3 separate regions of the Homo sapiens genome follow, and all the other regions are linked to region 2. The links come from fine-mapping of genetic effects on gene expression. A gene starts in region 2. Each other region holds a variant in brackets. All regions are shown on one strand. Distances are from middle to middle. Region 1 overlaps ATG4B (autophagy related 4B cysteine peptidase). Region 2 holds the start of ATG4B (autophagy related 4B cysteine peptidase). Region 3 has its middle 5.4 kb from the start of DTYMK.

The links.
Region 1: its variant is fine-mapped to the expression of ATG4B in whole blood (TOPMed, PIP above 0.99).
Region 3: its variant is fine-mapped to the expression of ATG4B in whole blood (INTERVAL, PIP above 0.99).

The regions. Positions count from the first base shown.
Region 1 is chr2:241,666,231-241,674,407 of GRCh38, forward strand. ATG4B (autophagy related 4B cysteine peptidase) reads left to right here. Exons shown (of 13, transcript NM_013325.5): 8 at 415-608; 9 at 1,913-1,991; 10 at 2,310-2,455; 11 at 4,496-4,552; 12 at 5,082-5,175; 13 at 5,961-7,627. The coding sequence ends at 6,034. Among named protein-coding and RNA genes, the nearest start is that of DTYMK, 16 kb to the right of the region's middle. RefSeq lists enhancers at 1,954-2,455, 2,456-2,955. The variant A/G (reference allele first, on the strand shown) is at 3,339.
Region 2 is chr2:241,634,127-241,642,303 of GRCh38, forward strand. It overlaps ATG4B (autophagy related 4B cysteine peptidase), which reads left to right and starts at 3,567. Exons shown (of 13, transcript NM_013325.5): 1 at 3,567-3,598. The coding sequence starts at 3,589. It overlaps THAP4 (THAP domain containing 4), which reads right to left and starts at 3,032. Exons shown (of 6, transcript NM_015963.6): 1 at 2,815-3,032. The coding sequence starts at 2,891. RefSeq lists silencers at 2,555-2,694, 2,765-2,834, 2,865-3,214, 3,585-3,634, 3,655-3,844 and 1 more and enhancers at 3,188-4,115, 4,515-5,048.
Region 3 is chr2:241,688,077-241,696,253 of GRCh38, forward strand. It overlaps a transcript of ING5 not described here. Among named protein-coding and RNA genes, the nearest start is that of DTYMK, 5.4 kb to the left of the region's middle. The variant G/A (reference allele first, on the strand shown) is at 3,496.

The DNA.
Region 1 (8,177 bases), 32 kb after region 2:
CGGGTGTGTGTAGGCAGAAGGGGTGGAAGCGAGGAAAGGCGTTGCTGAGGAGGCCCGGAGGGAGCGGGTTCTGGCTGTGCTGGCACTAGCCAGGCTGGCAGGCTGCGTGGGTACTTCTGTGATTTTCCTCTCAAGTGCACGTGGCTTTTTCTTGCACTGTTTCGTGTGTGTGCTTTATTTCACAATAAAACTCTTGAATTAAGTATGCATAGAAACTATTTCTTTTTTCTCTGGGTGGCAAGATTATGAAAAAATTTTCTTACGCTTTTCTATATTTTCCAAGTTTGAATTTCACTGTAAGCACCTGGCTTTGTACCGCCCTTTTTCTGTTACACAGTCATCATTTGCTTGCTTGTTGTGGGAGCACTTTTGCACAGGTCTGCTTGGTTAGTGAAAGCATGTCTCCCTTTCTAGGAAGGTTGTGCAGGACCAGCGTTCCCTGTGCAGGCGCCACTGCGTTTCCTGCAGATTCCGACCGGCACTGCAACGGATTCCCTGCCGGAGCTGAGGTCACCAACAGGCCGTCGCCATGGAGACCCCTGGTACTTCTCATTCCCCTGCGCCTGGGGCTCACGGACATCAACGAGGCCTACGTGGAGACGCTGAAGGTGGGTCCTGCCGTGCGGCGCTTGCCCTGAGTCCCCGTCCCCTTCTCCCAGTTCTTAGTCACTTTCAGCGCATCGTCGTCACGTGGCCATTTGTGCAGCCGGCTCTCGGGGGAGGGGTAAACAACCCTGGTTTACACCGTTGCCCAAGGGGTGAGTGGGCGTGAGGCACGTCCATCAGTAGGCACGTGCTGCTTTCGTTCTGCAAGTGTCAAGGCGAGTGTCGAGGATGAAAGCATGAGGCGCTTGCAGGGGGTCCTTGGAACCAGGTGCCACTCCTCGGCCTGACGGGGAGCCCCGCCCCCTCCCGGGTCTCCACTGTGCCCCAGGCATGCCCACCCCACTCCCCCACAGCCCTCTTGGCCTGAGGTCCCTTCGGAGGGTGGGTTGGCCTGTGAGGAAGGGACGTGTGGGCAGGGCCTGGGGATGGGCAGGGCTGTGTGAGGAGCTCCAGCCACAGGCTCCCCCATGTCATGAAAGCAAAAGGGGGCGGGGAGCGGTGGCTCATGACTGTAATCCCAGCACTTTGGGAGGGCAAAGCGGGCAGATCACGAGGTCAGGAGTCTGAGACCAGCCTGGCCAACATGGTGAAACCCTGTCTCTACTAAAAATATAAAAATTAGCCGGGCATGGTGGTGCGCGCCTGTAGTCCCAGCTACACAGGAGGCTGAGGCAGGAGAATCTCTTGAACCCAGGAGGCGGAGCTTGCAGTGACCCGAGATCATGCCATTGCACTCCATCCTGGGTGACAGAGTGAGACTCCATCTCAAATAAAAAAAAAAAAAAAGCAAGCAGAAGGGAAAACCATCCTTTCTTCAGGTAACTCAAATTTTAGACCAAGGAGTCACATTTGTATGGAACTGAAATGTGGCTTCCTGTTAAAATTATTCAGTTGTCTGAACTTGGCCCCTCCGTCCAGCCTTCTGCCCATCCTGTGGGGTCTCAGCTGCCCCCACACATAGGCCCCGTCTCCATCGCTTCTGCCCTGTCAGGTCAAAGCACTCAGCAGGGCCACCTCCCGCACCCCTGCTCACATCTCCTGCCAGGCCCCCTCACTCCCGGCCTCCCCAAAGCCCACCTCTGACATGAAGCTTCCCTGAGCTGAGCCTGCAGATTGGGTTTCTTGTGCCTGTGGGATGTCCTGTGGTCTTTCCTGGACAGTAAGCTCTTTGGTACCATGTCCCCTCCTGTCCCCTCTTGTGTCACCCAGTTGGGCCTCAGCAGGCCCTTGGGCCCCCTATGGCAGTGGGTGGGGGGACCGTCTGCTCCCACCTGGGACCTGTGCTCAGTCCCCCGCCCCTCCACAGCACTGCTTCATGATGCCCCAGTCCCTGGGCGTCATCGGAGGGAAGCCCAACAGCGCCCACTACTTCATCGGCTACGTTGGTGAGTCCAGGGTTCCCACCGTGTCCCTGTGGGCCTGGGCCTTTTAAGGGCATTCCATGAGCAGGTACCACACCCCAGGTGACCACTTGAGGCCACTGGTGGAAAAGCAGCATGCCCTGGGGTTCATTTTCAGCCTGGTCGCGGGCGGCCTCCTGTGTGCCCCTTTCCCTGATGGTCTGGTGCCCTCGGCTCCCTCCCCACCTCCTGCCCACTGCTTCTCAGTGTGATGTGGGTGCAGTGGGTCTGAAATGCGGCCTCCTCTGTCCCTTTCCTCTGCCGGCTCGGCCACCCACCTGCCCACCTGCCTCATCCTCCCAGGTGAGGAGCTCATCTACCTGGACCCCCACACCACGCAGCCAGCCGTGGAGCCCACTGATGGCTGCTTCATCCCGGACGAGAGCTTCCACTGCCAGCACCCGCCGTGCCGCATGAGCATCGCGGAGCTTGACCCGTCCATCGCTGTGGTACGTGGCGGCCACCTGAGCACACAGGCATTTGGTGCTGAATGCTGTTTGGGAATGACGAGGAAAACTTTCGGATTTTTGCGTTTTTTTTTTCAGCATGTTGGGATAAGTACTGTGTTCACGTGGTTGGGAATCTGAAGGGTATAAGAGCCGGAACTGTGTCCTTGCACCCTCACGTCCCTCCCCCAGGCACCACCTCCTGTGCAGCCTTCATGGCCTTCGAGTGGCCCAGAGAGCGTGTGTCTGGATGTGAGCGTGTGTGGGCGCGTGCTGAGTGTGCATGGATGAGTGTGAGCCATGGTGAGTGTGTCCCCCTCACACCTACATTTAAACACACGGGCGGCCCCTCCACCCACCCCTGCACCACCTTCGTCACACCCACATTTAAACACGGGCGGCCCCTCCACCCACCCACTCCTGCACCACCTTTTGTTTTCCGGAGGCTCTGACTTGACCTCTCTGGGGGATTTCCTAAGAAGGAGCTTCCCTGTTTTTCCATTTTGATTACCTAGTTGTGATTTTTGGTGTGTGATTTATGCAGACCTGCCTGCCCTCAAATATATTTGATGGGGAAAGAGGCCAAAAAACCCCCCTAGAAATCATGAATGACGGTGACATGCTCAGGGAAGCAGTTAACCGAATCGGGGGCTCTGTTGTGGATGCTCCGCCCCATTTAGGAGGAAGAAGGCAGATCTGGGCCTGAAATGGGACGGTCTCTGAGCTGTGGCGCAGCCCCAGAGTGCACACCACGCTCCATGCACCTCCTGGGCAGGGTGGCAGTAGTGGGGAACATGGGCTGGAGCTCTGTGGCTCACACTTTTTGTTTGTTTGTTTGTTTTTGAGACGGAGTCTCACTCTGTCGCCCAGGCTGGAGTGCAGTGGC[A/G]CGATCTCGGCTCACTGCAAGCTCCGCCTCCCAGGTTCACGCCATTCTCCTGCCTCAGCCTCTGGATTAGCTGGGACTACAGGCACCCGCCACCACGCCTGGCTAATTTTCTGTATTTTTAATAGAGACGGGTTTTCACTGTGTTAGCCAGGATGGTCTTGATCTCCTGACCTCATGATCCACCCACCTCGGCCTCCCAAAGTGCTGGGATTACAGGCGTGAGCCACTGCGCGCAGCCTGGCGCACACTTCTTACCAGAACCTAGTCACGAATTCCTCGTCGAACTAGAATTAGGTATGTTTGTTACTGTAAACGCAGCTTGGTGGCTTACAGTGATTGGCACTCTAACAGTCAGGTCAGGCTAGAGAGCCAGCCACCGCAGACAGAGGAGTGGACGCGTGAACGTTGAGTTGAGACCAAAGGGGCCACCTGGTGGGATAACTGTCCTCACCCGTGAGGAGGAGGAATGTCCCCTGTCCCCGGGGGAGAGTGCTCCTACACCAGCGCCGAGGCGGCAGAATGGTGTCTTCAGGGGAAGAGAGTGCCCAGTTTGAGCTTCTCCCCCCATTTCGTTTCTTTTTGTGTTAACATCTGCGCATCTGGCAGCGTTGAGAATTCCTAGTGACTGTCATTACAGGCGGCAGCTTTAAGGATGTGATTGCCGGTGACCCTTGGCCGGTCCCCTGTCTCCTGGCTCCTCAGCAGGAGGCTCCCTGTGTCACGGTGTCCTTGGGCAGTTCTCGGTGGCCTTTGCCGCCAAGCTTCCAGGGAGCTGCTGGGCGAAGGCTGAGACCCAGCGGCCCTGCCTCACAGTCACAGAGAGAAGAGCTCCCCACTTGGCCCTAACTCATAACCTGCCCCAATCCCGGAACACTCGGTGAGGTTTGAGAGATGCACACCACGTAACATCTCGTGGGCGAATCAAGGCACAGCAACGCAGTGGAGCCTGAGGGGAGCCGGGCACTGGTGCAGGGGACCATGCACAGGGCACCCTCGGAGCTCCGTTCCTGGCCACAGGAGCCAAGGCAGGCTGGAATGTCCAGCACCTGCATGCTGGGGGCCTCTGCTGCGCCACTGGCAGTGGGAATGGAAGCCCCCACCTCTTAGCCGACTGCAGATGGGGGTGTCGTGTTCTGCTCATCGTCATTTCGTTTTAGGGGTTTTTCTGTAAGACTGAAGATGACTTCAATGATTGGTGCCAGCAAGTCAAAAAGGTTTGTAGCCGCCCCACACCCACAGCCGAGCTGAGCCACCCAGGGAGACAGGCAGTGGGGCGTGCAGGGGTCGAAGGCCTGCGTCCAGGTCTCAGGCAGCCTCACTGGGCCGTGGGGAGCTTTGTCCCGCCTGGCACAGCTATGTAGCTGAGCAGGGTGGGGCGTCCTGGATTGCCCATCTGGCAACACAGTTAACAACCCTGGGGACGGATGTTGCGTGTTGACTTTAGAATGGGATTTCCAGTGTCCTCATCCGTCTCCTGTTGAGATGGGGGTGGTGATGGGGTGCTGAGCTACGCCGGCCGAGTGCGTGTGGCCCACCCCCCTCTGCCGTGGTGGTCAGACTGTGCTGTGTGTTGATCACCACACTGGGTTCTCGTGTAGCCTTTAGTGTGGAGCTGCCTCTGTTTTCTCATCAGTGAGATGGGATGACAGGTTTGTCCGCTGGCTGTGGCCGGCTGGCCCCTTTCTCTTGGCCGCAGCAAGCACTGGGGTGAGGCTGCACCTAACGGCCATGTCTCACTAACAGCTGTCTCTGCTTGGAGGTGCCCTGCCCATGTTTGAGCTGGTGGAGCTGCAGCCTTCACATCTGGCCTGCCCCGACGTCCTGAACCTGTCCCTAGGTGAGAGCTGCCAAGTCCAGGTGGGGTCCCTCGGAGGTACGATCTGTGCCCTTGCTTCCCCAGTCCTGGCCCCCTTGGTTTTGACCATTAAGGTGTGTGTGAGCCTGAGCCGTGAGCACTTGGCAGTGGTTCGCCTGTGAGACCAGGTATGGAGTGGAGCGTCCCCTCCTCCAAGCTTGCGCCCAGCAGCCCAGGACCCACCTCGTCTTCCCCACCAGCGCTGCCTGCCCGGGCGCTGTGGAGCTGGGCGTGCTACCATGGAGTCCTCAGGGGTCTGGAGCAGACAGAACATGCAGGCTCTGTGGTGACGCAGTCCTGGGTGGGGGACTGGTTCACTTGGGCACCACTGGCCATGGGTGGCGTAGACCCCTCGGACCATGGCCAGCGTGCCGCAGGAGCCGGCCTGGGCTCGTGCAGTGAAGTGAGTGGCCGTGAGCGCGTCCTCCTCATCTCTGTCTCCCTGTGGGAAACTCTACAAACAAGGCAATGGCAATGGAACCACTCCTGATGACCACGAGGGTCAGACGCGGGACAGAGGCCCCTCAGGCCTGAGATTGTGCCGGCCGCCCCCTGCCCTCCTCACCCTGCCCTGCTCCTCTTCTCTGCTCCCTCCCCCCATATTCGCAGGTCTGCACAACCCCCGGACCTGTTCACACCCGCATGGGGACAGCTGTCTGTGGGCTGCAGAGCAGGCACTGCTCAGTCTGCCCCACGCCAAGGGCCCTTGACTCACACCCAGGTGGCCCACCCAAGATGCCTGATGCGCTATGTCCTGTTCCTTCTAGATTCTTCTGATGTAGAGCGACTGGAAAGATTCTTCGACTCAGAAGATGAAGACTTTGAAATCCTGTCCCTTTGAAAATCCTGGGGTCGGGGGTGGCACCTGTGAGAGCCTGGGGCTCCTGGTGCCGCTGCGTTTCATCCATCCCGCCCGCTCGCCTGCCGAGGGCTGCGCCCCGTGCTGCCTCCCCCCAGAGGGCCACCCGCTGTGCTCGTGGACTGAGGCTGCGCTGCCCGGGAGGCCTTACTGCTTGGTGTCAGACTGCCCAGCTCAGAGTGCCCGTCAGGGCCTGTGCATCCGCACGCGGAGCCGTCTGTTAGGAGCTTCCAGAGTGTTCTCTCGACACTGCCAGCCCCGTGTTAGCACCTGGGCCTCAGTCCCACTTGCTCCCAGGCGCCGGTTCTGTGGTTGGTTTGGAATTAAAGTCCTGTTTGAAGTTGTCAGACACAGACATGAATTTCTGGGCGCTCCCTGAGTCAGAGTCTCAGAAGACCTGTGCAGGCTGGCGTGAGAGGAGCGGCAGCCACACTGCGGCCCCACGCCCAAGGACTGGGCTGCTCTCGAGGGGGGCGCGCCCACCGCTGTGTCCTCTCTGCCCAGCCTGGCTTACCAAGGGCTACCTCAGTGGGAGATGAGGTTGGAGGAACGAAGGCGAGGTTCCTCCTTGCTTTGGGGAGAAAAGTATTCAGGAAGTGGGTGTGTGGGAAACCTGAAGATGGCGTGCACAGGACACAGCGTGGGCGGCCTGGGCAGAAGGGCGGCTGGCTGTCCTGGAGCTGCTGCTGGAGCCTGCCCTCAGAGTGTCCCTTTCCAGTGCTGTGGCATTCTGTGGCAGCTTCCCCAGGTGTGGTGACGGGGGGGGGGCGGGGCCTCCACCTGTGACAGCCAGGCTTGAGGGTGGACGGCGTGCCTCTCCCAGGAGCCTTCCCCATGTCCTTGCCTTGCTGAGAATTGCCCTCCCATGCCGCTGAGGTGTTAGGTGGTTTAGGGCCAAAAGGGGAAAACCACTTGAGTCTTGTGGTGTGTGGTGGGCAGACACCACAGGGTGGCATCACCTGGTGGCATTTCCAGAACCTCAGCCCCGATTCCAGCACCCACCACCGCCTGACCCTGTGTAACCTGCTGTCCCGGGTCCCAGAGTGCACTCTGCCCCGCTGCTCTGCTGCCTGTCCTGGGAAAGTATCTTTGCCCCACTAGGAAATGTAAACAGGAGGGCTTGGGGAGCGTGGGCACTTTTCTCATGAGCAGCTACTGCGGCGTTGGCAGGACTCGCTGCTGCTGCTGCTGCTTGTGTAGGTCGGGGAGCCAGAGATCCCCGAGGACGCGCGCCGGACAGTCGGCACTGACCGGCCCACCTGGTAGCAGAGGACACCCCCAGCCCCCCAAGCATTGAAGACATAGTGTATTTCCTCGTATCCTTTCTCCCTTGGGTGTAGTTGGGGTGGGGAAGCAGGGAAGGCTGGTGCGATCTCCATTCCTTGGGCTCCACGTCCGAGTTCATGGTGCGCCGCTGTGCTGGGAGCTGCAGTGGTAATGTGTGGGACACCTTGACCAAAGGGGAGCTTTGTCTCGTGTGTTTTGAAAAAGGCTTAATGAAGAGAATGTTGTTCATTCTTAGTAGTATAGTTTGCAATTCTTAATGGCAAATAATAAGTTTCAGTAGAAAACAAACCTTGTGTCTATTTTTTCCTTAAGTTCTAATTGAATGTGAGTTCCAGAAAAAAAATAAGTGAATGTTTCAGCCCGTTCACACGTAAAGGATGTGGCTGCCTGCGTGGCGGGCTGTGGGGCCCTGAGCAGGTGTGTCCCCAGCCCTGGCAGGGGGCCTGTCCTGCCTGCAGCCTGGCTCTCTACCAGCCGTGGCATCAGCCACCTCATACAACCCTAGAAGGAAAAAGTGCAAGGAAAATAGGATTTTAGGAAAGTAAAATGGCGGTTCCCATCTTCAGCAGGAGGAAGTCACAGGAAGTGCCTGGAGTTGCAGGGTTTGCCTCGATTTGAATCATAGCAAAGCCTTCCCCAAGTGCGCAGTGACTGTCCTGGCCTGTGGGAGGCCATGCCTGGGGCACAGCAGGGGGCTTGGTGAGGACATTGCTCACTCTGGCCAGTGCATCCCTGTGGGCAGCCCTGGTATAGGTGTGAAGGGCCCAAAGCCAGATCGGAGGGGGCCCTGCTGGGTCCCCGGTGAGGTGGCTGAGGACTTGTGGCCTCTCCGATGCTC
Region 2 (8,177 bases):
CCTTAAAATAATCAACTGTAAAAGCAAAACAAGTATTTTTGCACGCACCCTAAGCCGTATTGACTTCATCCACTTAAAAAAATACTTCAAAAAGATTTAAAGAACATCTTCTACCTGCAGTTATTACTGGAGTAGAAATCTGAAAGACCCGTTGTCTACCCATACAGAGCTTATAGTCTGTAGGGCGGATGGGAAAGAAGGTAACCAACTGCTCCCCAGGCTGTGGTAAATGCCCAATGGGGACACAGGATGCTGACAGACAGTGCCAGGATGGCCTCAGGACAGCAGGAAATAGCTCCTAGAAGCTGACTGCTAACCAACCCTCCCAACTTGCCTGGAAGGTAGGACTCTGGGTACCAAAACCAGGGCCAGCATCCACAGACACTAGGGCGTGAGAGGTCAGGACTGCATGGAGGCAGCCCTGGCTGTGCGCAAGCAGCTGAGAATCTGGAGACCTCCAGAAGACTCCAGAGCTACAGTTCTGTGTTCCTGTTGCATGCCCACCTCCAGGAGTAAAAATGCTCCTTTTAAAAGTCAACCAGCCCAGGGACAGGGCACAATGGTGCTCACCTGCAGTTCCAGTTACTTGGGAGCCTGAGGCTTGAGGGTTCTTTGAGCCCAGAAATTCGAAGTTACAGTGAGCTAAGACTGCACCACTGCTCCCCATCCTGGGGAACAGAGTGAAACCCGGTCTTCTCCCCTCAAAAAAAATCAACCAACTCAGATGATCCTTGAGGACATTATACTGAATGAAATAGGGCAGGTGCAAAAAAACAAACACTGCATGATACCACTCACATGAGGTACTCAGAGTAATCAAATTCATAGAGACAGGAGAATGCGGGTTCCCAGAGCCTAGGGAGAGGAGGACTGGGGTATTAATGTTTAATGAGTCCAGAGATTCCGCTTTACAAAATAAAAATAATTCTGGAGGTGGATGGTAGTGACAGCTGCACAACAACGTGAATGTATTTGTTGCCATGAATTGTACACTGAAAAAGCGGTAGGAAAGGCTGGGAGCCGTGGCTCATGCCTGTGATCCCAGCTACTCTGGAGGCTGAGATGGGAGGACCACTTGGGTCCAGGAGGCTGAGGCTGCAGTGAGCTACGGTCATACCATTGCACTCCAGCCTGGGTGACAGAGTGGGACTCTGTCTCCAAAAAAAGTTAGGATGGTAAATTTCATGTTACATGTATTATACCATAATTTAAAAATGGTGAGAAAAAAGCAACCAGCGCAGGAAGATACTGAATAGGATGTTTAGTCATTTCTTTATTACCTAATAAAGATCCTTCATAACCATTTCTTCATTAAGGCAAACTCTGTGTTTAAGAACATAGGCCTGGGCCGGGCGGGGTGGCTTATGCCTGTAATCCCAGCACTTTGGGAGGCCGAGGCGGGTGGATCACTTGAGGTCAGGACTTTGAGGCCAGAGTTCGAGACCAGCCTGGCCAATATGGTGAAACCCTGTCTCTACTAAAAATACAAAAAAATTAGACAGGCGTGGTGGCGCTTGCCTGTAATCCCAGCTACTTGGGAGGCTGAAGCAGGAGAATAGCTTGAACCCAGGAGCGGGGGTTGCAGTGAGCCGAGATCGCACCAATGCACTCCAGCCTGGGCGACAGAGGGAGACTCCTTCTCAAAAAAAAGAGAAAAAAAGAAAAAAAAACCAGGCCCTAATGTGCACATAAGGGACAGGGTGGTCAGTTCTAACTGCTATTTGCTCCACCTGAGGCCAGTGTGGACCAGGACAAATCCTAACAGGATGGACTGGGCCGTTCTAAGCAACAGGACCTTCTAACCTCCTTTCTGAACACTGTGAGGCCAACTGCAAAGGTACCCCCCCACCCCCAATTCCGATGTCCTTTCCTCCCATACCATGTTAGACCGTTGCAACACGTTGCCTCGTTTTCAAAAAACAATAACAAAACTTCTAGGACACAAGCTCTGAAGGAAATTGTCAAGAAAGTGCGCTGGCTGACTTGTGAAATAATCTAATGTTACTAATTCTTATAATACATTGTAATGATTTAAGACTTACAGCAAACTACTGTGAACTTTCAATAACCCTATAAATAACACGTGCCATTCCCGTCTTTAAAACTTAAATAACACCATGCAACATAAAACAGAAACATCTCCAAAGTGGTTTTTAAAGTCTGTTCGCGGTTCTGGTGCCTCCCGCGTGTAATCCGCAGAAATCTCACTGAAATAGGCTGAACTCACAAGGCCTTAGAGGGGTTTGGGCCCTGCCGCGGGGGCCCACGTGGGAAGCGGCCGAGAGCCCCGGGCCAGGCTCTAAGGGAGCGCAGGAGGATGCCGTCCCCAGCCGGCCGTCCCGTAGACTCTCCGCGCGTACCCGCGTCCTGGGCTCGGGGGCCCAGTCCCGGAAAGCCCTCTCGGGGGCTGTCAGCTACGGAGGCGCAGGTCGCGTCTGCCCGGTCGCTCCTGCTCGCAGACATCCAGGCCGACGGCCCGCGCGGTCCGGAGAGTCAGCAGTCGCGGCCGAGCAGGACAATCGGCCCAGGACCTGCGCTTCCAGAGCGTGCGGCTTCTGAAGCCTAGGCGCCGGCCGGATCGATCGCGCGCAGGGCGGACCCAGGCGGCCGGGGTGGGGGCGGCTGCGCTGCCCGAGGCGCCCGGCCCAGAGACGGCGGCCGGGCCAAGGTCACACAGCGCCCACGCCCGCTCCCCCGCGCCCCGGCCGCCGAGGCCCGGCGCCCCCGCCCCCCGCGTTCGGGCCGGCCGCGGGGCCTCAGTTTCCCCGCAGGGCCGGGTCGGGGCGGGGGCGTGGCGGCCCGGGGCCCGCGTACCTGTGGAAGGAGACGGCGCGCTTCTCGCCCTTTCCCTGCCGGTTGGAGCAGTTCACGGCCGCACAGCAGATCACCATCGCGGGCCTTGGCCCAGCCGCGCAGCCAGGCCCCGGCCCTAGCCGCCCGCCCGCCCGCGGACCGCCCCGAGGGAGGGAGCGCGGCGGCGACACGGCTCGGGACGTGGGCCGGCCCGCGGCGTCCGCGCCGTACGGCAAGATGGAGGCGCAGGCGCCCGCAGCGGGCCCGCCCCCGCCCCAGCCCCCGCCCGCGTCCTCGCCAGCCGCGGGTTCGGGCGTCTTCGGACCAGCGGGGCGCCGCAGGCCCCTCGCAGCGTCCGTCGGCAGGCGGGCAGACGGGCGGGGGAGTCGCCCCGGCGGGGCAAGTCCGTACCGCGACATGGGCGCGCCGAGCACGTCCGTACCGCAAGATGGCTGCTCGGACGGGGACAGAGCTCGCCTCTGCCGCCTCGACAACTGCTCCTGGGTCCTCTAAGAGGAGGAAGCGCCACCCATGGCACACAGTGTCCCGTCGGACAGCAGAACCAGCCGTCGTCCCACGACACGACCCCATGCCGCCCGCAGGGCGCCCCGGGGCTCGCGTCGGCCCGGCCGTACGCCAAAATGGCGGCTCCCGCGTATTTCCGCTCGCGCGCCGTATCGTCTTCGCCGCCTGCGCCGGCACACCTATTGGCCCCCGCGGCGTCCCGTCGCCGCGTCGCGTTGCTGGCCCGTCGGAGCGACGCCGCTCGGGTCAGTCGGCGGCCGGACTGGGAAGATGGACGCAGGTGAGGAGTTGCCGGGGGTCGGTCTTTCCGCAGGAGGTGCTCGCCTTATCATTGGCCTCCCCTGCTCGGGTCGGGCTGCCGCGACTCGCCTCGGGGCACGCCGGTGCGGGCCAGGCTGGGCCGGGGCGGCGGGCGCTGCGGGAGCGCGGGGCGGTGTTGGTGGGTGGTGGGCGGTGGGAGCGGGAGGGGGACGGCGGCGCACTGCGCCGCGGAACCCGCCGTCGGTTGCGCTGGAGCTTCTGCTTTTCCGGTCCCGTCCGGAGCGCTCCGGAGGTTGTGGCTGCACAGGCCCTTGCGCCAGGTCGGCCGTGGAGGGCGGCGGAGCCTGCCGGGCGGGGAGAGGCGCGGCGGCGAACGGGGCGGCCGCGGTCCGGGCCGGGGACGCGAGCGGCGGGCGAAAGCGTAGCCTTTCCGCAGCTGAGCGTGAAGGGATGGAAGCTCTTTAACTTTTATGAAGTTATTGGTAGGTTGGAGGAGAGAAACGTGACGTGTTCATCACAGTATACGTATCTTTTTTGTTTTTGTCTTCAATTTAGTAACCAGTAGATTCTCCAAGCTGCTTTTCCGTGACGAGAAAGAGAAACAGTGAATTTGTATCATCGGGTCTTAGTTTCTTGGGGTCCTAAGAGAGAGAGAAAGAGAAGGAGTGTGTGTGTGTGTGTATAGGGAGTGTTGGTTTTTTTCCTATCCTTTCATGCTTCCGCTCCATTTTTGCTAGCAAGATTATTTTAAGTCAGCGCCAAACCCATCGCTAGCCCAGTAGCCCTAGAAATATTTTTACACAGAAGTTTTAGCTCATTCATTCTTTGTGGGAACTGATTTGCCTTTTACCAAGTATCCCCCATCTGTAAAGAAAGATTTTCATCTGGTTTAATTCTGTCATTCTGAATGGGATTGTTTTTACTTTTTATTTTTCTGGTAGCTACAACATAAATTTATTAAGATCTGAGTTGGAAAACTGTAATGTGTATTGCCAATATCTATTAAAATGATTTGTAGCAGCTCACCACTTAAATGTGGTAGGTGGCTGGAGGAAACAGGAGCCCTGACTCCCTAAGGAGCATGTTGACCAGGTGTATATCTTGTGAAGTTTGTCTTTTAGAATAACCGTCATTCACGGTTGAACTATTTGCAGCTGTGTACTATTTGTTGTTTACTATTTTACAACTGTTGTATTATATCTTTTTAGGTGTTATTGTTTGTGATGCAGGATTTTTCTCAGCCACTCTGGCAGCCAGAGACCTCCGGCTGGCGAGGCCCCTGCCCAGGCCTTGCTTGGGTCCAGGCTCGCCGCAGGAGATACCCCATCTACTTGGTCCACCGGTGGGCACCTGGTTTGCACTATGGCACGGATACCATGGCCACCATGACTGTATGCTCAGCCCCTGGCGGGAGTGGGTGTGTGGGTGAGTGAGTGCCGGGTCCCGCCAGCTGTTTCAAGCGCAGGCACCAGAGTGGGCTCTGCAGAGCTTACAGCTAGACATGTGGCAAGCAACTCCCACGGCGGACTCCAGCGTCCAGACAAAGGGACAGTGGATTCTGGTGTCCAGACAAGGGGAAGGTAGTGGCGCCCAAGCAGGGGTGCTTACAACCCTGAAGCCCAAGAGGGGGTGTTGCAGAGTGTCAGCAGCCCTGTTACTCCCATTGCCCTGCTCCAGGCTATAGCTCTGGGGCTGGCTCCGTCCCCGCTGCTTCCCTTTGCTGCCTCCTGTCACGTGGGGTGTCACAGTGGGTGGCTGCCCTTTGCCGGCAGAGGGCCCAGGGCCACAGTGTTACAGCCTTCTTTGTACTTGCATTCATTGGGTCCCTAGTTCTTGTCCCACGTCCAAGAAGAATGAGACTACACTTAACACTGACAATCGAAGGGTGAGGAGGGTGGAGAATAGTTTTATTGAGTGATGAAACACCCCTCAGCAGAGAGGGGACTCAAGGGTGGTCTTCCACCCAAAGTCGGGTGGTCTCCCTTGGTGTGGCTGGGTCCAGGGCTTTTATAGGCTCAGAATGGGGAGTGTGTGCTGATTTGTCTGTGAGTATGCAAAAAAGGTTAAAACAAAGTCACTACTCAAAGGTGGGCACAACAGTGTAATAAACCAATTAGAGAAAAGTAGGTATATGTAAAATAGGTGAAGGGTGGGGATTAATTAGAGGAAAGCGCACCAAACAGGAAGAGAGGTTCGCAATCCAGTCTGTGGATTTATCCGAGACTCGTCGCTTGGCTTTCAGGCTTTAAACTGTGGCTTGAAGGTTGGGTTTCACTGGTGACCCACCCCTCTCTGCCTAGGATTTGTCTGCCTCCTGCCTCTATCATTTCGATACCTTGAGGCTGGAGTATCATATGAGAGACTTGGCTAAGGTCAAAAACACGGTTCAGTGTCGATCATATGACCTAAAATGTGAAAATCATCATGTTCAAGTTGGGAGAACAGTTATGTTGTTACATGGCGATACTTTATTTTATCTTTTATTTTCCCTTGACAACTGTGTTGACATGGTGATACTTTAATAGGACACTGGATGTTGCTGCATGTGGGATCAGAGTAGAAAAGGTGTTTGCATTTAAAGGTCTCTGTTTATGCTGATAAAAACGTATATGATGTTTGTAGGATATCATGGGGAATTTTCCTTCTGACTTGATGCTGTATTTCCTTTCAGAGATGATTAATGATCTGCCCTCCTTTGATCTCTAGAGTTCTTGAAGATTCTGCCTTCCTTGACCATGTGTAATACAGTTTCTGTTCTGATAGTCATTAATTCAATACACTGTTTGTTACTGACTGTCAGATATGTGTTAGGCATTGTTCTAGACACTAGGACTAGAGAAGTAACAACATAGATGAAAACCATTGCCCTGGGGTAGCTAACGTTCTAGACATGAGACCAGCATTAGCAGCGAAGTGCGTGGCTCCTGGGGGATGGTGATTTGGGCCAAGGATGAGGAGGATTGGAATTGTAGCCAGGATGGCCAGGAAGGGTCTCACTCTGAAGGTTTAAGTTTTGACGAAGACTTAAAGCAGTGTAGGAGGAAGGGCAGGTAGCAAGAGCCTGGTGTGGCTCAGGTGCAGCGGGTGGCGGTGGGAGAAGCAGGAGCTGAGGATAGAAAGGTGACTTAGGCTCAGTGTAGTGGGGCCTTGCCAGCTCATAGTGAGGACTCGGTGTTTATTCTGAACAGGATGGCAGCTCATAGTGAGGACTCAGTGTTTATTCTGAACAGGATGGCAGCCGTTTGGAAGGTTTCATTCTAGAGGAGGAGTCACATGATAGACTGTGTTCAACAGGCTTGCTCTGGCATCTCTTTTGAGAATGTACTGCAGAGGGGCAAGGGCAGAGGCAGCGAGACCAGCTAAGAGACTGTTGAACAAGCCAGCAAGGAGATGCCAGTGGATTAGCTCAGGGTGGGTAAGAGGTTGACTTCTGCATGTGTTTTGGAGGTTGAGACAATAGAATTTGTTTGTAGATTGGAAGTTGGGAGAGGGATGGGTAGAGAGGGAGGAGTTAAAGATGGCCCCATAGTGTATGGCCTGAGCTAAGCAACTCAGATGGAGGGGGGCGGGCGTGGTGGCTCACGCCTGTAATCCCAGCACTTTGAGAGGCCGAGGTGGGCGGATCACAAGGTCAGGAGATCGAGACCATCCTGGCTAACACGGTGAAACCCCGTCGCTACTAAAAATACAAAAAATTAGCCGGGCATAGTGGCGGGCGCCTGTGATCCCAGCTACGCAGGAGGCTGAGGCAGGAGAATGGCGTGAACCCGGGAGGCGGAGCTTGCAGTGAGCCAAGACTGCGCCACTGCACTCCAGCCTGGGCGACAGAGCGAGACTCTGTCTCAAAAAAAAAAAAAAAAAGAAACTCAGATGGGGAAGACTTGGGGAGGTCCTGTCTGGTGGGAAGCTTTCTGTTGCGAGTTTGGATTTATGTGTGTTGAATGTGAGGTGGATGTTAGACATCCTTGTAGAGCAGTGTCCAGTGGGCTTTTGGGTCTACAGGTTTGGAGCTAAAAGAATAAGCCTGGGCTGGAGATAGACTGGAGGTCACATCAGATGAGGTCACCCAGGGTGTGAATGTGGGTGGGAAAGAAAAGAGGCCAAAGGCCTCTGCGGGTGTGGAGAGGTCCAGGAGGTGGCAGGCAGACCACAGTGTGGCTGTGTTCTCCACCAGTCCCTAGCACTGTCCCTAAAAGCATGCTCCCCATTCAGACGACTGGCAGGTGCCAGCACTTAAATAGCCACACTGCCCATTCCTTGAGGACAGAGCTGGTGTCTTGTGCTTGCATTTCTAGTGCATCACTTGTGTCTGGCATGTGGTTGGTAATAAAAAAAAAACAGAACTTGAATTAATAATAACCTACACATTCCCCTACTATCAAAGCTTTCAGTTTGTAGAGTTTAACATAAATCCAGTATGTTAGCATAACATGTAATGAATGCAGAGGCTGCTGGGGAGTGGTTTTTTTTTTTTTCTTGAGATGGAGTCTTGCTCTGTTTCCCAGGCTGGAGTGCGGTGGGCGCGATCTAGGGGAGTGGGTTTTAATGTGCGCAATCTGCCCAGTGTGTGCACTGAAACAGTGTTTTCTAGCTTTCTG
Region 3 (8,177 bases), 54 kb after region 2:
TATTTTAGATATCTAAAATACTACTATCTATATGTGCCATATTGTCAGTTGTCAGCTAGACATCACTTTCTCTGCTTAGCAGAAGAAATGGTAGGAACTGCATTTCCCAGAATCATCTGTGTAGCCCTGGATTACAGTCTACCAGACGAGGCACTCTTACCTTTCGAGGCGATTATTCTTGGGAGGCACCCTCAGCCAGAAATATAGATGAAATTCAAAGCTGTTCTGTTTTCAGAACCACCTGCCTCTGATGTAGACCAAGAAATTGCTGGTAGCTTTCTAAGTGTTGAGTTTGCATTGGTTTTTTCCCCATGAGCTCTTGAGACCACCACCCACTTCAGTGCTTTGGGCTGAGGTCATTGGCAACAATTTCCCGGACTTTACTCCCAGCATTTGTGTAAGCTCGCGATTATATTATCATTGCATACCTAGAGTAGCTTTATGTTTTCCAGACTGAAGCCTCCCCAATTCAGTTTGGGGTTCTGGAAGGATATGGGTTATATTGTTATTACCAGTTATGCCCTTTCTTCCTTTTTAATTTACTTTTATTGCTTTTATTTTATTTGAGACGGAGTCCTGCTCTGTCCCCCAGGCTGGAGTGCAGTGGCGCGATCTCAGCTCACTGCACCCTCCACCTCCCGGGTTCAAGCTATTCTCCTGCCTCAGCCTCCTGAGTAGCTGGGATTACAGGCGCCCACCACCACGCCCGGCTAATTTTTGTATTTTTATTTTATTTTTTTGAGATGGAGTCTTGCTCTGTTGCCCAGGCTGGAGTGCAGTGGCGCAATCTTGGCTCACTGCAAGCTCCACCTCCCGAGTTCATCCCATTCTCCTGCCTCAGCCTCCCCACTAGCTGGGACTACAGGTGCCCACCATCATGCCCGGCTAATTTTTTTTGTATTTTTTAGTAGAGACGGGGTTTCACCGTGTTAGCCAGGATGGTCTCGATCTCCTGACCTCATGATCCGCCCATCTCAGCCTCCCAAAGTGCTGAGATTACAGGCGTGAGCCACTGCGCCCGGCCAATTTATTTTTTAATTTAATTTTTTTTTTGAGACGGAGTTTCTGTCTTGTGGCCCAGAGTGGAGTGCAATGGCATGATCTTGGCTCACTGCAACCTCCACTTCCCGGGTTCAACCTATTCTCCTGCATCAACCTCCCAAGTAGCTGAGATTACAGGCACCTGCCACCACGCCCAGCTAATTTTTGTATTAGTAGAGATGGGTTTTCACCATGTTTGCCAGGCCGGTCTCAAATTCCTGACCTCGGGTGATCCGCCCACGTCAGCCTCCCTAAGTGCTGGGATTACAGACGTGAACCACTGCACCTGGCCTACCCTTTCTTCCTTTACGTCAAGCTTAGTGGTGAGACTTCCAAATGGTAATGTAAAGTAGTCTGCTGTCATGTGCCCTGTTCAGGCAGAAGCTTTAAAGGGTGTTTTGTGGTTTGGTCCCTCCCCTTCTGCCCCCAGCATGAACACAGCATGTGCACAGTGAGGGCTGGTTTTTCACCCCAGATCCTGTAACAAAGGCCCATGAAGTACAGCCGTTGTAGCTGATGGGCAGCACCAGCAAGAAGTAAACCATCGTGATTTCGAGTCACTGAGACTTCGGGATCCTTTGTTACCACAGCACAACCTAGCGAACGCTTACAAGTACTAAGAATAGTACTTACTATTCCCTTACATAGATAAGTAATAAAAGTAATATCCTTTTTTCTGATTGATGTCTCCTTATAAAATTCCATCTTGTTGCCTTCCAGAGGATGAAGGGGATTGTAGTAAGGAAGACCACCTTCCAGAGGATGAAGGGGATTGTAGTAAGGAAGACCACCTTCCAGAGGATGAAGGGGATTGTAGGAAGGAAGACCACCTTCCAGAGGATGAAGGGGATTGTAGGAAGGAAGACCACCTTCCCGGGGCTGGGCAAGGCTGCGGTACTGTCTCTCATCAGGTCCAGGAGGACTCAGCAGGCTGATGCAGAGGGACACAGCGCATCCGCCTTGGTGGATGCATGGCTTTCCTGGCTCCCCTGGGACGGGGGAGGAGGGTGAAGATGGAGGGAATCTGGCTGGCTGGGCCTTGTGTACTGGGGGGTGGAGGGCCCATTTGACTGCAGGAATTGCTCAAGCACATAAGCACCTTGAAGTGTGTTACTAAGATACAAGAAACAGGTTTGCTTTTGCCTATTCCAGCATGGTGTACCTCTCTTAGGATACCTTTTAGCACAGGTAGCAGAATACCAGCCAGCCTCCTGTGGCTCACAGCATTAAGATATTTAATCATCTGACATTACATGAAGTCCAGTGTTAGGCAGGCAGGAGCTGCTCCCGTGACTCAGTGACATCAGGTTGGTCCACATCCTAGCAGTTCTCTTGGTGTTCCTGCGTGATCAAAGGATGACTGCCACACCCCAGCCTGCTGACCTCAGCCCTGGCGTGGGCATAGGAGGGTCTGCGTGGCTGAGCATCCAGTGTCCTTCGTACTGCCACTGACAGCCTCAGGCCTGATTTCCAGCACTGTCTGTCCAGGAGCAATGGGAGCAAGAGTCACTCCACGAGACTCTGGAGGCCTGATAGGTGAGTACATCCACTTTATAGGGGAAATGGTGGGATGCTGGGTCTGTGTGGTCAGAGATACAGGTGAAATGGAGTTGGCCACAGGCTGATAATTGCAGAAAGATGCAGGTGAACACATGGGTTCGTGGGTTCATTAGGTTCTCTGCTTGCTTTTTTTTTTTTTCTTTTTTTCCCAGACAGCCTCGGTCTGTTACCCAGGCTGGAGTCCAGTGGTGTGATCTCAGCTCGCTGCAACATCCACCTCCTAGGTTCAGACGATTCTCCTGCCTCAGCCTCCCAAGTAGCTGGGATTTACAGGCGCCCGCCACAACACCCGGCTAATTTTTTGTATTTTTAGTAGAGACAGGATTTCACCATGTTGGCCAGGCTGGTCTTGAACTCCTGACCTCAGGTGAGTCCACCTGCCTCAGCCTCCCAAAGCGCTGGGATTACAGGCGTGAGCCAGCGCACCCAGCCAGGTTATCTGCTTTCTTGTGTTTGAGATTTTCCATTTAAAAAAAAGGACCTGGGTGTTGTGGCTGACACCTGTAATCCCAGCACTTTGGGAGGCCGAGGTGGGTGAATCATTTGAGGTCAGGAGTTCAAGACCAGCCTAGACAACATGGTGAAACACCGTCTCTACTAAAAATACAAAAATTAGCTGGGTGTGGTGGCACATGCCTGTAATCCCAGCTACTTGGGAGGTTGAGACAGGAGAATCACTTGAACCTGGGAGGTGGAGGTTGCAGTGAGCTGAGATCATGCCACTGCACTGCAGCCTGGGTGACAGAGTGAGACACTGTCTCAAAAAAAAAAAACAAAAACAAAAAAACTGAAGGAGCAGGAAAGCTCTTTTGCTAGTCCCTGTTTCTTAGTGTGCTGCAACTTCCACCACGCAGGGAATAAAGTCTCTCACCGTCAGTGGGCTGGGGCTGTCAC[G/A]ACAGACTACCTTAGACTGGGGAACTGAAGCAATAGGCATTTATTGGCTGGAAGTCCAAGATTAAGGTGCCCGACAGATTGCTGCCTGGTACGGGCTGTCTTTTAGAGTTGCACATAGCAAAGAGAATGCTCTGGTACCTCTTCCTTTTCTCATGAGGGTACCAGCCCTATCGGATTAGGGTTGCACCCTTATTGAAACCATCCCTGGCCAGGCATGGTGGCTCACACCTACAATCCCAGCACTTTGGGAGGCAGGTAGATTGCTTGAGCTCAGGAGTTTGAGACCAGCCTGGGCAACATAGACTTATTTGTAGATTTATTTATCTCTACAAAATAAATAGGTGGGCGTGCCTATAGTCCCAGCTACTTGGGAAGCTGAGGTGGGAGGATCACTTGAGCCTAGGAGGTTGAGGCTGCAGTGAGCCATGGTTGCGCCACTGCACTCCAGCCCAGGTGACAGAGTGAGACCTTGTCTCAATTTTTAAAAAAATATAAAAAAAGAAAACCGTCACTAAAAACACAAAATTAATCAAGGAAGAGGGGAGGGGGAAATGGAATAACCGAGCTTGCAGCACACGCAGCACCAGTCATGTGGTGAGCCCCTCTGAGCTGGCGCCTCGTGCCTCAGAATCAGGTAGACTCTTGTTATAAGATTACAGTTACCCTTAACTGCTCCAGAGATAACAACTTGAACATTATGAAACCTTAACTTTTCCCTTTGAGATTTTTTTTTTATTTTAATTTTTTTTTCTTTTTAGAGACAGGGTCTCACTCTTGTTCAGGCTGAAGTGCAGTGGCACAATCGTAGCTCACTGCAGCCTTGAGGTTCTGGTCTCGAGTGATCCTCCTGCCTCAGCATCTGAAGTATCTGGAACTACAGGCACACACATCTGGCTTTTTTTTTTTTTTAAATACTGACGGGGTCTTGCCCTGTTGCCCAGGCTGGTCTTGAACTGGTGGGCCCAAGCGGTCATCCTGCCTCGGCCTCCTGAAGCCCTGGGATTGCAGGCATGAGCCACCACGCCCAGCCTGAGATTCTTTCAGGCCCTGCATACCAGTGAAAGTACTGATGCCAGCTGCTCTGAAGGACCCCACAGGAGCTGACTCAGCAAGGAATGCAGTTTCCACATTCTAGTGAATCATCCTCCTTACCCTGGCCAGTCAGCGACCCCCATTTTCCAGCCCCTCACCTTCCATGATCCCCTTAAAAACCTTAGCTCAGAACTCCTGAGGGAGATGTATTTGAGGAGACGTCTCCTTTCACCTCCTCACCTGGGCCTTGTTAAACTCTTTCTCTGCTGCAAACCCTGCTGTCTGAGCATCATGGGTCTGTTAACTGTGCAGCAGACACATGAAAACTGTTGGTCCTATCACATTAGGACTTCATTTAACCTTAATTAGCTCCTTGGCCAGGTGCGTTGGCTCACGCCTGTAATCTCAGCACTTTGGGAGGCAGAGGCGGGCAGATCACGAGATCAGGAGCTCGAGACCAGCCTGGCCAACGTGGTGAAACCCCGTCTCTACTAAATATACACAAATTAGCTGGGTGTGGTGACGGGCGCCTGTAATCCCAGCTACTCAGGAGGCTGAGGCAGGAGAATTGCTTGAACCCAGGAGGCGGAGGTTGCAGCTGAGATCGCCCTATTGCACTCCAGCCTGGGCGACAGGGCGAGACTGTCTCAAAAAAAAAAAAAAAAAAAAGCAAAGCTCCTTAAGGGCCCTATCTACAAACAGTCACGTTGGGGGTCAGGGCTTCAACACAGGAATTTTGAGGGACACAGTTCAGTCCATGTCCTCACCTGCTCCCAGGAGCTTCGAGTTGTGCTGGTACTCACTGCTCTGCTAAACTCCCAACCCTCCTTGCAGGTAGATGTGGCATGTGGACCTTCACACAGCAGGCTTGCATCCCCTACGCTCTCCGACATACCCCTTGTTGCAACCCAGCCTTGACCAGGCAGACGATGGCAAGGCCCTTTGTGGACAGACACCATACAAGAAGGAATGTGGGTCCCTGAGAGGCCCCATGGAGTGTGCTGTCCCGCCTGTTCACATTAGAGTTGTTGCACTGAGAAATACAACTCTTTTTTTTTTTTTTTTTTTTTTTGAGACTGAGTCTTGCTCTGTCGCCCAGGCTGGAGTGCAATGGCGCAGTCTCGGCTAACTGCAACCTCCACCTCCCAGGTTCAAGCAATTCTCCTGCCTCAGCCTCCCGAGTAGCTGGGATTACAGGCACCCACCACCATGCCTGGCTAATTTTGTATTTTTAGTAGAGACGGGGTGTTTCACCATGTTGGCCAGGCTGGTCTCGAACTCCTGACCTCAGGTGATCCACCCGCCTTGGCCTCCTAAATTGCTGGGATTACAGGCATGAGCCACCGCGCCTGGCCCTCTCTGGCAGTTTCTAAAACAGGGTCCCTTCAAAAGGGTTTGCCAGTTTTGTGTGTGTGAATGAAAGAAGACAAATTGATCTCTGGGAGAGTTATATTTAATATATGATATGTGAGGGCCAATAACCCTTAATAATAAAGATTTTTTTTTTTTAGACAAAATACATGAAGACCAGTTTCTACACAGAGAATCACTAAAAGATGGCCAGGCGCGGTGGCTCACGCCTGTAATCCCAGCACTTTGGGAGACCGAGGCGGGCGGATCACAAGGTCAGCAGATCGAGACCATCCTGGCTAACATGGTGAAACCCCATCTCTACTAAAAATACAAAAAATTAGCCCGGCGTGGTGGCGGGCGCCTGTAGTCCCAGCTTTTCGGGAGGCTGAGGCAGGAGAATGGCATGAACCTGGGAGGCAGAGCTTGCAGTGAGCCAAGATCACACCACTGCACTCCAGCCTGGGCGACAGAGCGAGACTCCATCTCAAAAAAAAAAGAATCAGTAAAAGATATAAAGGAGAAAAGGACAGAACCACAAATAGGCAACAAATATGTTAAAAAAAAGTTTAGCTTCACTTAAAATGAAATAAATGTGATTAAAATATTTAAGGTTGGCTTTTTCCCCCCTCTAATGAGTTAGCGAAGGTTAAACATTTAAAAAGCCTGATGAAATCTAGGGTTGGCAGAAGTATGGAAAGCAACCAGTGGCCATGCTGGTTGGTATAACCTTCCCTTTGGGCAATTCATTTATAAGTATCAGCACTTAAAATGTGCAATACTCGGCCAGGCATGGTGGCTCACACTGTAATTCTAGCACTTTGGGAGGCCGAGGCGAGTGGATGATGAGGTCAGGAGTTCGAGACCAGCCTGGCCAACATAGTGAAAACCGGTCTCTACTAAAAATACAAAAAAAATTGGTAGGGCTTGGTGGCGGGCGCCTGTAGTCCCAGCTACTTGGGAGGCTGAGGCAGGAGAATCGCTTGAACCCAGGAGGAGGAGATTGCAGTGAGCCGAGATTGCGCCACCGCACTCCAGCCTTGCGACAGAGCAAGACTCCGTCTCAAAAAAAAAGGACTGGTAAGACAATGTGGTATTCTTGCTCCTCCTCCCACTGTTAGTTGTGGGTATAATGTTTCTCCCATTCAACCTGGGTCGGCCCCAGTGACTTGCTTGACCAATAGAATGTAGTGAGGTGATGTCTTAGGGCTACCAAAGTGAGGTCACAAGAGCCGGTGGCTTCCACCCCAGCCTCCTGGGACTCTGTGAGACCCGCTGCTACTGAGACTGCTGTGCTGGAGAGGCCACATGTGGGTGTTCTGGCCCACGGTGCCAGCTGACATCAGCCTTCCAGCCACCCCAGTGATCTCTTTTCTGTCACACTGGACAGGACAGTCACCTGGTGGAGCTGCTGAAATTCCTGGCACGCTGTCACATATAACAAAATAGTTCTTGGCGGCACGGTGGCTCACGCCTGTAATCCCAGCACTTTGGGAGGCCAAGGTGGGTGGATCACAAGGTCAGGAGTTCAAGACCAGCTTGGCCAATTTGGTGAAAGCCCATCTCTACTAAAAATACAAAAATTAGCTAGGCATGATGGCACGCGCCTGTAGTCCCACCTACTCAGGAGGCTGAGGCAGCAGAATTGCTTGAACCCAGGAGGTGGAGGTTGCAGTGAGCTGAGATCGCGCCACCACACTCCAGCCTGGGTGACAGAGCAAGATTCCGTCTAAAAAAAAATGGTTCTTTTAAACCACTAAGTTTTCAGGGGTCTGTAAGGCGGTGATACATAATGGGAACAGATACTTGCAGTTCTATGTATAGCCATGTTCATTACAGCATGATTTATGATACTGAAATATTGGGAACATCTGTAAAGAGTTTGTTAAAGTCTGATACACCACTACAATGAAATAGATCTAGTCAGTGGGACAAAGCAGGGTGAGTAAAGCAGGGCCAGATGCTCACAAGGAGTATTCAGCTAAAAATGTAAGACAGGCTGGGTGCGGCAGCTTATACCTATAGTCCCAGCATTTGCGGAGGCCAAGGCAAGAAGATTGCTTGAGCCCAGGAGGTCAAGCTGCAGTGAACTGTGATCACACCACTGTCCTCCAGCCTGGGCGACAATGTGAGATCCTGTCTCAAAAAACAAAACAGGCTGGGCTCGGTGTCTCATGCCTGTAATCCCACCACTTTGGAAGGCCGAGGCGGGCAGATCACGAGGTGAGGAGTTCGAGACCAGCCTGGCCAACATAGTGAAACCCCGTGTCTACTAAAAATACAAAAAATTAGCCGGGTGT